2 separate regions of the Homo sapiens genome follow, and region 2 is linked to region 1. Evidence: fine-mapped expression QTL. A gene starts in region 1. The other region holds a variant in brackets. All regions are shown on one strand. Distances are between the middles of the regions. Region 1 holds the start of CACNG1 (calcium voltage-gated channel auxiliary subunit gamma 1). Region 2 has its middle 12 kb from the start of CACNG4.

Evidence for each region. PIP is the estimated chance that this variant, and not a neighbour inherited with it, causes the effect.
Region 2: its variant is the best candidate, but not a certain one, in a credible set for the expression of CACNG1 in lung (TOPMed, PIP 0.81).

Annotation. Positions count from the first base shown.
Region 1 is chr17:67,042,110-67,047,481 of GRCh38, forward strand. It overlaps CACNG1 (calcium voltage-gated channel auxiliary subunit gamma 1), which reads left to right and starts at 2,445. Exons shown (of 4, transcript NM_000727.4): 1 at 2,445-2,780. The coding sequence starts at 2,552.
Region 2 is chr17:66,950,054-66,955,425 of GRCh38, forward strand. No RefSeq gene overlaps it. Among named protein-coding and RNA genes, the nearest start is that of CACNG4, 12 kb to the right of the region's middle. The variant A/G (reference allele first, on the strand shown) is at 2,116.

The sequences.
Region 1 (5,372 bases):
CAATCTTTAATGCTTTCACTGCACTGGGGCGGAGGACTCTGGACCCCTGCATGGGGCACAAACCTGCCCCCCATGGAGGGAAAGAGCAGCAGAAGTTCCTGGTTGCTGTCCTCACCAAGGCCTGGCATCTTTGAAGGGCCTGCAATGTCATCATGGCTGGCGCTGGGTGCACCCTCTGGGCTGGGCCCTTTCAGGGTGCTTTCCAAGGCCGTCAGAGGCTCTTGGCACCGAAGAGCTTAGGGCATCCACCCCCACCACACCAGGAAATTCAAAAGACACTTTCATTTTTCCAATGACACTGTATTTACTTGTAATGCTAAAATTAAATAGCTTCTTTCTAGATTTTCTGTCTTAAAACACTGGAACCCTCTTCTGGCTCCCCAGCTACTGCTTTGCTGGGTGCCTGGCACTCAGTAGGTCTAATCAAGCTGTACAGCACCTCCTGAGATCCCCAGGTGCCAGGATCCTGAAGCTGGGCCCCCACAAACAACAAGAGAGGGCTCAGAGGCTGCAGCCATGTCCCAGCTTCTGGGAATTCCCCATGGAGATGGTCTACCCACCTGGTGACAGGCAGTTTCTCCACGAGCTGAAGCAGGGGCGGTGGCATATGTCAACAGTCAGTCAGTGATCAGTCAGTTGTGATGGATTAGCACCCACAGGGAACACAGAGGTGGGGGGACAGGGAGGAAGGGAAGCAGAGATGAGAACAGTGGGGAGATAAGCTCTCAGGAGATTGTAATATGTATGAGAGACTGATTTTAAAAATATGGAAGTTTGGATGGAACTGCAATAAGCACAAGCCAGTGGCTGGAGATGCGAGGGTTCAGCTCAGCCCTGGGGCTGTTCACCAGGTAGTCCTGGCTCCTCACATCTCCTCTCTGGGCTGCAGATTCCTAATCTGTCACAATAGATCATGAAGTTTCTTCCCAGTTCCAACCATTCGTTATGACTTTGGGCTCTGGGTCCTGAAACCTGGATTCCTCATTTTCTCGCTGTGTGACCTTGGACAAGTGACTTCATGTCTCTGAGCTTCCATGTCCTTGTCTGTGAAATGGCAGTAACCGTTGTAGTCCCCTTGTGGATTGGTGTGAAGAGTAACTGTGACAATGGATGAAGGCTTAGCAGGGTACCTGGTAGATAGTAAGCACTCACTGAAGATGAGCCACTGTTCTGATTATCATCATCATGAACTTTCTGTGATTCTAAGGCTGGAGGCCGAAACATTTCTGTCCACATGGGCAGAGTCTCTGTAAATCGTGTCAATCTGAGGCCAGGATTTTGAAGCTCAAGGCCCCACCCAGCTCAGGAGGCTATTCCTGGTCATGCGTCAGCCTCTCGGCTACACCCAAAAAGGGCCACCCTGTGAGCCGAGAAGGAAGAGATGACACAACCCAGGAGAGATGTAGAGGCTGGAGCCTCGGAGACCAGCCTGGGGGCCAGGCGGGTGCACAGGACCGTCGGAGGGTGGTCGATCCCGGGCTTTCTGTGTTCTCTGCACGCCCATGAGCTCCTAATGATCCCCTATAAATCAACCTATTCATTCTTTTTTACTCACACACTTATTTTTCAAATTCAAACATAACTGGAAAGTCGTTATCACCTGCTGTTAATAGAAGGCAAAACCAAACAGTGCCCTGAAAAACAGAATGACCAAGTCCAGCAGGATTCCTCGTCCTCTTCGGGCCGTTCTCGCTTTGTTTCAAAGGACACTTTACAGGCAATAATGACACTGACCTCGAACAGAGCTTTGCTCTGGACCCAGTTTTGGGGATGGAAAGAGAATTGAAAAGGAAGTAATGTTCTCGTGGAGGGATCAGAGTTGGGTAAGGCCAGACCTGGGAACCACCTAAAACCTTCCTATGGTTTGGGGGATGCCGTGGGGTTTGTGGCTAAAACGCTTGCCTAAGAGGTGGACTCCACAGGCCCTGGACTGGGTTCCCGGGATGTCATTAGACAGAATCCTAGCCCCTCAGATCCCAGGATGAGAACCTACTCACTGCCCTGCCGGTAACAGGCTTACCCCGTGGGAGCCCGGGACAGCCGTGCAGCCCGCAGCTCCTGGTCTCCTCCCCTGGCCTGGGCTGCCCTTTCCCATCAGCCCAGAGCAGGCAGATCCCCACCCCCGGGGCCCTGCTGCCCACCTCTCGCCCTCTCCCAACTCAGGCACCCTGAGCTGCTACTCACAGAGGCCTCAATCTACCATCCAGAGCCTTCTCTCCTTGCCACCCTGCCCCGCCGCACTGGGGTATTTCTGGCTCCCAGAGGGGCAGAAAACCCTGAAACCCGAGCAGAAGCTGTCCTCGGTGCCACGCCTGGAGATGGGCATTAATAGCAGCCTCCCTCAGGCCCCTGACGCGTCTGGGCAGCTGCTCAGCACGTCCCGCGTCCCTCGGCCCCAAGGCCAGCCCACTCTGGCTCAGCCAGGCACACTAAACTTAGTGGCCACTCCCAGCTCGACAACCACTGCCACCCCCCAAGCTCGGCTTGTCACCTGCCCTAGGAGACGCAGCCGCCGGACCCTGCCCAGGGCACCCACGCCTCGGCGACCACCATGTCCCAGACCAAAATGCTGAAGGTCCGCGTGACCCTCTTCTGCATCCTGGCAGGCATCGTGCTGGCCATGACAGCCGTGGTAACCGACCACTGGGCTGTGCTGAGCCCCCACATGGAGCACCACAACACTACCTGCGAGGCGGCCCACTTCGGCCTCTGGCGGATTTGTACCAAGCGCATCCCCATGGACGACAGCAAGACCTGCGGGCCCATCACCCTGCCCGGGGGTAACGTACCCACCCTCCGTCCCGATCCCCACCTCCTGCTCTTCCCCGTCATCCCCCTGGCAAAGTTGCCCTTGCGAAGGAAGGCAGGTTTCTCTGCCTAGAAATAGGGCAGCCGCCCAGCCTTTTCTGCCCAGGGAAGAAGATATGAATTGCATGTGTGGTGCTGGTGGCTGGGGCTGGGTTGTAAGACGAGGGCGTTTGTCCCAGCTATTTCTGTCTGGCTGGACCTTGGGGCTTTTTGCCCAGAGCAGAGAGCTGGGCAGGCTCAAGAAAGGAACTGCAGCTCTACCAGCCCAGGGACTTCTGGGCCCCACCTGCTCACTCTCTCCCTGCAAAGAAAAGCTAGGTGGCTCTGTGTCCTCAGGCTAGGGGGACCCATGGGGCTGGCAGGTTTGTTCCTGGCCTCAAGGCAGGAGAGGAGAGAGCATAGGCGATGGAATTTGCAGGGTCCTGTGCAGAATGAAAATGCAGGGTTCCTTGCTCCAAATTACCAAGGATTTCAAGGCAGTGACAGCAGCACATGAAACCACACATGGGCCCTTGTGGGCTCTGGGCCTGGAGCAGCTGCACAGGTTGAATGTCTGTGAAGCAGGACATGGCTGTAGGCTGTAGGTGAGCCACCTGCCCCCACCTTCTTTTTTTTTTTTTTTTTTTTTTTGAGACAACTTTGTCGCTCAGGCTGGAGTGCAGTGGCATGATCTTGGCTCCCTGCAACTTCTGCCTCCTGGACTCAAGCGATTCTCCTGCCTCAGCTTCCCCAGTAGCTGGGATTACAGGCATGCACCACCACACCCATCTAATTTTTGTACTTTCAGTAGAGACGGGGTTTCACCATGTTGGTCAGGCTGGTCTCGAACTCCTGACCTCAGGTGATCCACCTGCCTTGGCCTCCCAGAGTGCTGGGATTACAGACGTGAGCCACCATGCCCGACCTCCACCTGTCCTTTTGTCAGGACTTCAGTCCTCTATGCATCCTGTCTTAGCTCAGACCCTGTCAGAGTTACAAAGCATTTCCTCACCCTGTAATTTAAGCGTATTCCTCGATTTCCTACCGTGTGACCGAACCACACGTTGAAGGTAAGGTCCTTTTCAGGAGTACCTGGTAGTCGCGTGACTAGCCTCTATTCTGCAAATGCAGAGGCTTCTGGATTCTTAGCAAATACAGCACTTTAGAGGAAAGAGTGCTCATGGAGACCAGGCAGCCAGGGATCTAATCGCCATTGCCCACTACCCTCAAATGACCATCCAGGGAGGACAAAGCTCATCTCAGCCTCTGCTTCTTCCTCTATAAAATATGGGACTGACTCTCAGCAACGTGAGATCCCTTCCTCGGCTTACAGACGCCCATCCACAGTGGCAGTGGAGCAGAGTGATGTCAGTGTGATGTCCCACCTGGTTTTCAGGATTATTTCCTCTTTTATCAGACTAGGTGTTCCTTGAAACCTGTCCTTCAAGGACACTAGGGCTAAGTCCCCAAAGATCTTGCAGTCTGCTTGTGAGGCAAAGAGCACAGACCCCATCCTCCCTTGTCTCTGCTCCCTCTTCCTTCCCTCCTGCTTGCTCCAGAGATCCCCTCCCTTGTTCAGCCCCACTGGAGGCCCAGAAGACTCATAAGTGCCCAGCTGTTGTAGAAACACCAAGTCCCAGGGCTGAGAGTGACAGGTGTGGCCATGTGCTTGCAGGGTATCGCATAGCCCGGATGCCCATGCCCCTTGGCCACTGCTGAGCACACCCATAAACAGGAACAGCCTCCAGCCAACTCCCCTGGGCAGGGCAGGGCAGGGCAGGGCAGGGCAAGGCAGCTTCTTCAGGGACCACACATGGGGACGTGCTGTTACAGTCCTGTTCACCCGTCCTTGGAACCATCTGCCTTTTAAAGTCAGAGCAGAAGACTGGGCAGTGAGCAGAATCCACACAAGGAAGAGACAGGCTGGTGAGAGGTGACTGGACCAATTGCAGGGGGCCAACAGGCATTGCTTGGCCTTGAGCCTGACAGGATCTACCTCTTTGCCTTCTTAGCCTAACCAGCTATGAACCACACCTCCCACACTTGTGACACTGAGCACTACCTTTCCCCCAGTAATCTTCCAAAATATGTTCCTGCCTTTTTCCCTCTCTTTTCTCTGCAAATGGACATCTTTCTCCTTCCCCATCTGCCCTTCTTGTGCTCCCTGGGACCACTCTTCTCTGGAGGGAGGAAGTGGGTTCATATGTGGCCCGTCATCTATTATTAACAACAATAATAATAATGGCACATACATGTAGCCCTGTGTGCCAAATATTGTTGTAAACGCTTTACATATATTAACTTTGAAAGACATCAGGAAAAAAAATGATAGAAAAAGAACCTCCAAAAATAATCTTCTCCATAATAGTAATGAGAAGGCTGGCAGAAATGGTCAGAATCAACATTTTCAGAACTCTGGAAATTAACCAAAGTCTTGCAGCAATCCAGCAAGAAAAATGGGTGAATCTCAGGAGGACCAGTGAGTTCTGTGGTGTTTTAACTTGCCTTATTCCTGTTTCCCTTTCCCAGCTCTGTGGTAACCTTGCAAACCAACATTCCGTAATCACAGTGAAAATCAGCATCCC
Region 2 (5,372 bases), 92 kb before region 1:
AGCCTGCAAACCCTTCCTTTTCTGCTGCCTTAGGGTTAATACACACATTTACTTAACACAGGGGGGAAAAAAAAACACAAAACACCCAACTTTAAAAACAAGGCATTTGGAAGAGAGAGAAAAACAAAGTAATTACATTTCCAACTCTGCTGTCATATCAAACTTGTAGGATCTCGGGAGCTGCGGCGTTTACCATACAAGTGTTGGTTCTTCTTTACTCCTCTCCTCACCATATAGCTCAGAAAATATATTCATTTACTTTTTCACTCAACGAATAATTTATTGAGCATTTCTGTATGCCAGGCCCTATGCGTTAGGTGGTGGAGTTTCAGAATTGAACAAAACAGACCTGGGTCCCTCCTGGAGTTTGCCAGGTATGAGAAAGACAGGCTGACATGCAAAGACACACTGACATGCAAATCCTGATGTTGATTATGGGGGTGAGAGCTATGAAGAGAGGAGCACGCCATCCAGACTACTGGTCTGGAACAGCCTCTCTGAGAAGGTGATGTTTCAGCTGAGATTGAACTTGAGACTGAACTTGAACTTGAAACCAAGAATTGAGACCTGAGAGAAAGAAGAACTCTCTCTGAGCTGGAAAGGAGCTTGGTAGATTGGAGGGAGGGACAGTGGCCAGTGTGGCAGCCTCTCAGGGAAAAGGGAACCTGAGCTCAAGGTGCAGTTGCAGGTAAGGACCAGATCACATAGGACAGGCCAGGTGTGGGCATTCATATTGACCCTCAGTGCACGGGAAGACTCTCTGACATGGTTTTCAGCAGACAAGTGAAGTAATTGACATTTGCACAGATCCTCTGGCTGCCAAGGAGAGAACGCATTGAGGGAATGTAGGTGGCAATTGTGAAGGAGAAGGACAGTGTCGCTGGAGGAGGGTTTTCCAGGCATCCAGAGGAGAGAAGCAGGTGGCCTGGCCAGGAGGCGGCAGCAAGACAGGGAACAGTGGACAGGGTAGAAATGCATCTTGGACATAACACTGGCAGGATCTGGTGATGAGTTGCCTGTGGTCTGTGGCCTGAGCCACAGGCCAATGGTGGTGCTGTACTGAGATGGAGAAGCTGGAGAAGGAGTAGGTTTGGAAGGAGGAAATAGACTCCATGGCACCTGCCTCCTGCTCAGAAGCCTTGTCATGCAATTCCTCTTTATGCAATTCCCCTTTTGAGTCTGTCTCCCTCTCTGAATGGGAGGTTCCATGAAGGCTGGGGTCACACCTACACAGTTCACTGCTGTATTTTTTTTTTTTTTTTTTTTGAAACAGGGCCTTGCTCCATCACCCAGGCTGGAGTGCAGTGGTGCAATCTCAGCTTACTGCAGCCTGGAACTCCTGGGCTCAAGCCATCCTTTCACCTCGGCCACCCAAAGTGCTGGGACTACAGGCATGAGCCACAGTGCCCAGCCCACAGCTCCATTCTGAGTAGTGCTCACAGTGCCTGGCACCGGAAGGCCCTCGGATAGCCACTGTATTCATTTCCTAGGGTTGCAGTAACTAATTACCGGATGGCTTAAAAAAAAAAAAAGAAACATATTTTCTCACAGTTCTGGAAGTCAGAAGGCTGAAATCCAGGTGCAGATAGGGTTGGTTCCTTGAGGAAGCTCTAGGAAAAACCTGTTCCGCGACTCTCCCTCAGTTTGGGGGCTGTTGGTAGTCTGCGGTGCTCCTGGGCTTGCTGGCACCTTGCTCCAATCTCTGCTTTCTCCTCTGTGTGTCTTTTCCCCTTCTCTCCTAAGGACACTTGTCATTGGACCTAGGGCCTACCCTAATTGAGGATGATCTCATCTCAAGATCTTTAACTTGGTTACAGCTGCAAAAACGCTTTTTCCAAATAAGGCCACATTTGCAGGCTCTGGGCATTAGGACTCAGGCATACTTTTTGGGTGGTCACAATTCAACCCACTTCATCCACCAACTGAGAAAATGAATGAGTGAGTACCCGGCGATTTCTGGTTGATTGGAGAACCAAGTGTAACTCAAACGCTGGGTCAGAGAACAAAGCCCTGGCTTTTCAACCAGCCTTCTGTGGTAGCTGTTTGTATTCACCGCCAGTTTCTCTAAGTTGGTCATTTAGGGATGCGTCCATAACACAGCATGTCAGGTAGGTG[A/G]CTCACAGTGAATAAACTGAAGAGAAGCTGAGTCATAGTTAAAAGCGGACTTAACATTCCAAAGGTGAACAGCAATCCAGCCTCGAGGCTGAAGCCATTCTTATGCCTCTGCCAGCCAAGGCAGAGACAGATAAATAAATACCATCACTGAGCCAGGCGGCACAGCGCGACCTCCAGGCCCGCACCCCTCTCAGGCATCCTGCCTGGCCGGTCTACCTCCTTCCAGAAGCAATGAATATTTCCAGCATGGAGCAGGAGGCAGGTCAACAAATGCTGCTCTAAACATCTTGGTCAAGCTTGCTATGACCTCCCATCCTGCCATACACACCTTAGGTCACAGGCAGCCTCCTCTCCACACTGCCACCCTGCAATGAGGGCCACCCCCTCTGGAAACTACAGGGGGTCAAAAAGTGGGAGGTTTGTCTGTGTGCCCCACAATCCAGGCAGAGAGGTCCAGGGCAGAGGGGACCTTTGAGGGGTACATGGCACCCTTCGAAGGCCTCAGAACACGTCTGCCTTTACAAGCTGACCACAGCCACCAACACTTAGTCTTAGGAACCCGACTTCTCTCTACCTATGAAGGTTTTCTGCAAGGTTTTGTCTCCTAGAGACCCTGCCCCATCCCAGGCCCTGCCCGGCTGACCATCCCCCCCTCCAGTATGAAGAGTCTGCCTGTCCTGATCCAAGACAGGCAAGGACCAGACCCTGGAGGAAGGCAAGTGACATTGCAGGGGGACAAGCAGAAAAGTGTCTGAGGAGCCCAAAGGCCAGGCTCTCCTGGGACTGAGAGCAGCAGCTCCGGCTCCAGGAACACACAGGGATGCACATGGCAGGAACTGGGGCTGTCACGAGCAAGGCCAAGTGCTCTCCCTGGGTGCTGAGTTTCTTTGATCACCAGACCTGAGAAGGGCCCTTTTCCACAGGGGCCTTGGGACTCCTGACTGCTGCCTCAGCATGAAAGTGTCCTGTCTCCCCAGCTGAGCCCCTCTCTGGGAGGCAGGTCCCCATCCCCTGGGCCTTCCTGCTGGGGTGTGCTGCTCTCCCCACATTGTGTGGGCACCAGCACTATCCACTTAGCACCTCAACCCCCCGGGGCCTCTTCACTCGTCTCCCAGGGGCTCCCCTAAAAGCTACTTGCTCCTGAGCTCCAATTGTAATCAAGTCCCAAAGCAGCTGGGTTTAAAGACACAATTATGCATTATGGATAAAGGGCAGGTCACCCTCCCCCGCCAGCCAGCTGGGCATCTGTGCTTGCCCCACGGCTCCCATCAGAGGCTCCAGCAGGCCTGTCCCTCCCCTGGGCACACAGAGCAAGCCAAGGCGCCCCTTGGTGCCCGCAGTCCCAGGAGCCGAGCACGGGGCTCCTGGCTGCAGCCGCAGAAAGGCCCTCTTGCTGGGATCCCACTACAAATTGATGAACGCTAATGACCTGCTTCCTCCATCTGGTACCACAATCATGAAGATGCTCCCAAACGCTGGGAGTTGGGGGGTATTCTTTTTTTCTTTTCCTTTTTGCCTTTTTTTCAAATATTTATGAAGAGATTTTCCATTTATCCTGACACGTCTTCTCCACCGTGGGTGTCAGCTAGGAGGGCTCAGACAACAAACTCCAGAAGGTATTTTCCCCAAAGCAGCATCTGGCTCCGTTGGCAAGTACAGCGGGTGGTTTGCTGGGAATTGGCCGAGGAAGAGGGAGGAGGAGCCACAGGCTGGCAGCCTCCGGTCCTGGCTCTGTGATGCTCCCAGGGATGGGGCTGGAGCATCCCAAGAGAGCAGCCAGGATACAGGACCTCACAGGCACCCCCACCAGCCTCTCTCTCACTCTCACCCTTCAAGTCTTCTGGTCTGATGCCAAAGCTCCCCAGCTCCCCAGGTAAACCACCTGGGTGGTGACCAGTTCTCCACGGCAGCCTCTAAGAGTCTTCTTCAGCGACAATTCCCAGTGGGACAAGTTGGTAAAGGAGAGGGTGCTGGCTTGGCCCCTGCATCTCAAGCTCTCCCCTCCCAGGAAGCCTTCTAAAGGCAGAGCCAGAGGCCTCCCTCATTCTCCCTGATGGGCATTTCCCACCTTTGGGGACAGTGTGACCCACACCGGGGACAGAGAGAGTTGGCTGGGCAGCAGGGCTAGAGGTAGCAATAAGAACCTTATGGAATCTCCCAGGTCACACCAGCTTAACTGCTGTCTTCTGTACTCACTGTGGCAGAGCCAGCCAAATGGATCCAGGAACCCCCAGCCCCACATTCCTTGATAGTTACCAGAGTCTGAGCCAGGCTGTATCTGCCAAAGATGAATTCTGGTGAAAATCAAACACTTTCCAGGAGATCTTGGGTCCAAAGGCATCATGGCTTTGTGCCCTTGATCTTGCCTGGGCTGCCCATCAGCAACCACTGGGGAGCTTCAAAAAATATCAATGCCCAGCCCCACTCCAGCATGGTCAGAATACCTGAGAGTGGGGCATATATTTCTAAAATCTCCCAAGTCATTGCCAAGGGCATCCGGGGTTGAAAACTATTGAGCTATGGGAAGACTATGTCCCCTGGACACAGGCAGTCCTAGACTGGAGTCCTTGCTCTTTCACTTACTTGCTGTGACCTGGAATCAGTTACTTGCCTTCCCAAAGCCTCAGTTGCACCATCTCTAAAATGGGGATAACAACATTTTTCTTGTCCTAGGGTGCCCAGCACATGTAACTGTTTAACAAAGTCAAGCTGCTATTAATCATCTTCCATCACGAACCCATCTTCCAGGACAAGAGACTGCTGGTGTTGAGTATGCAGAGCAGCCCAGCAAGGCAGCCGGCCAGGCAGCTGCTTCCAGCCATGCACAGAACTGGGACCTTGGAACTGTTACCTCCCTTACCTGCAGAACAGCCTCAAGGTCTCACCTCTGGGTACCAAGGCTGCAAGAGGGCAATTCAGTCCTTACCTCTGGGTACCAAGGCTGCAAGAGGGCAATTGAGTCATGGGCCATACCACTCCCCAGGTGATGACACTCCCAACAGATACAGCACCAGTCAAAGAATATCTCTCTGAGGCCGGGTGCGGTGGCTCACACCTGTAATCCCAGCACTTTGGGAGGCTAAGGTGGGCAGATCACCTGAGGTCAGGAATTCGAGACCAGCCTGGCCAACACGGTGAAACCCTGTCTCTACTAAAAATTCAAAAATTAACCGGGCATGGTGGTGCATGCCTGTAATCCCAGCTACCTGGGATGCAGAGGCAGGAGAATCACTTGAACCTGGGAGGCGGAGGTTTAA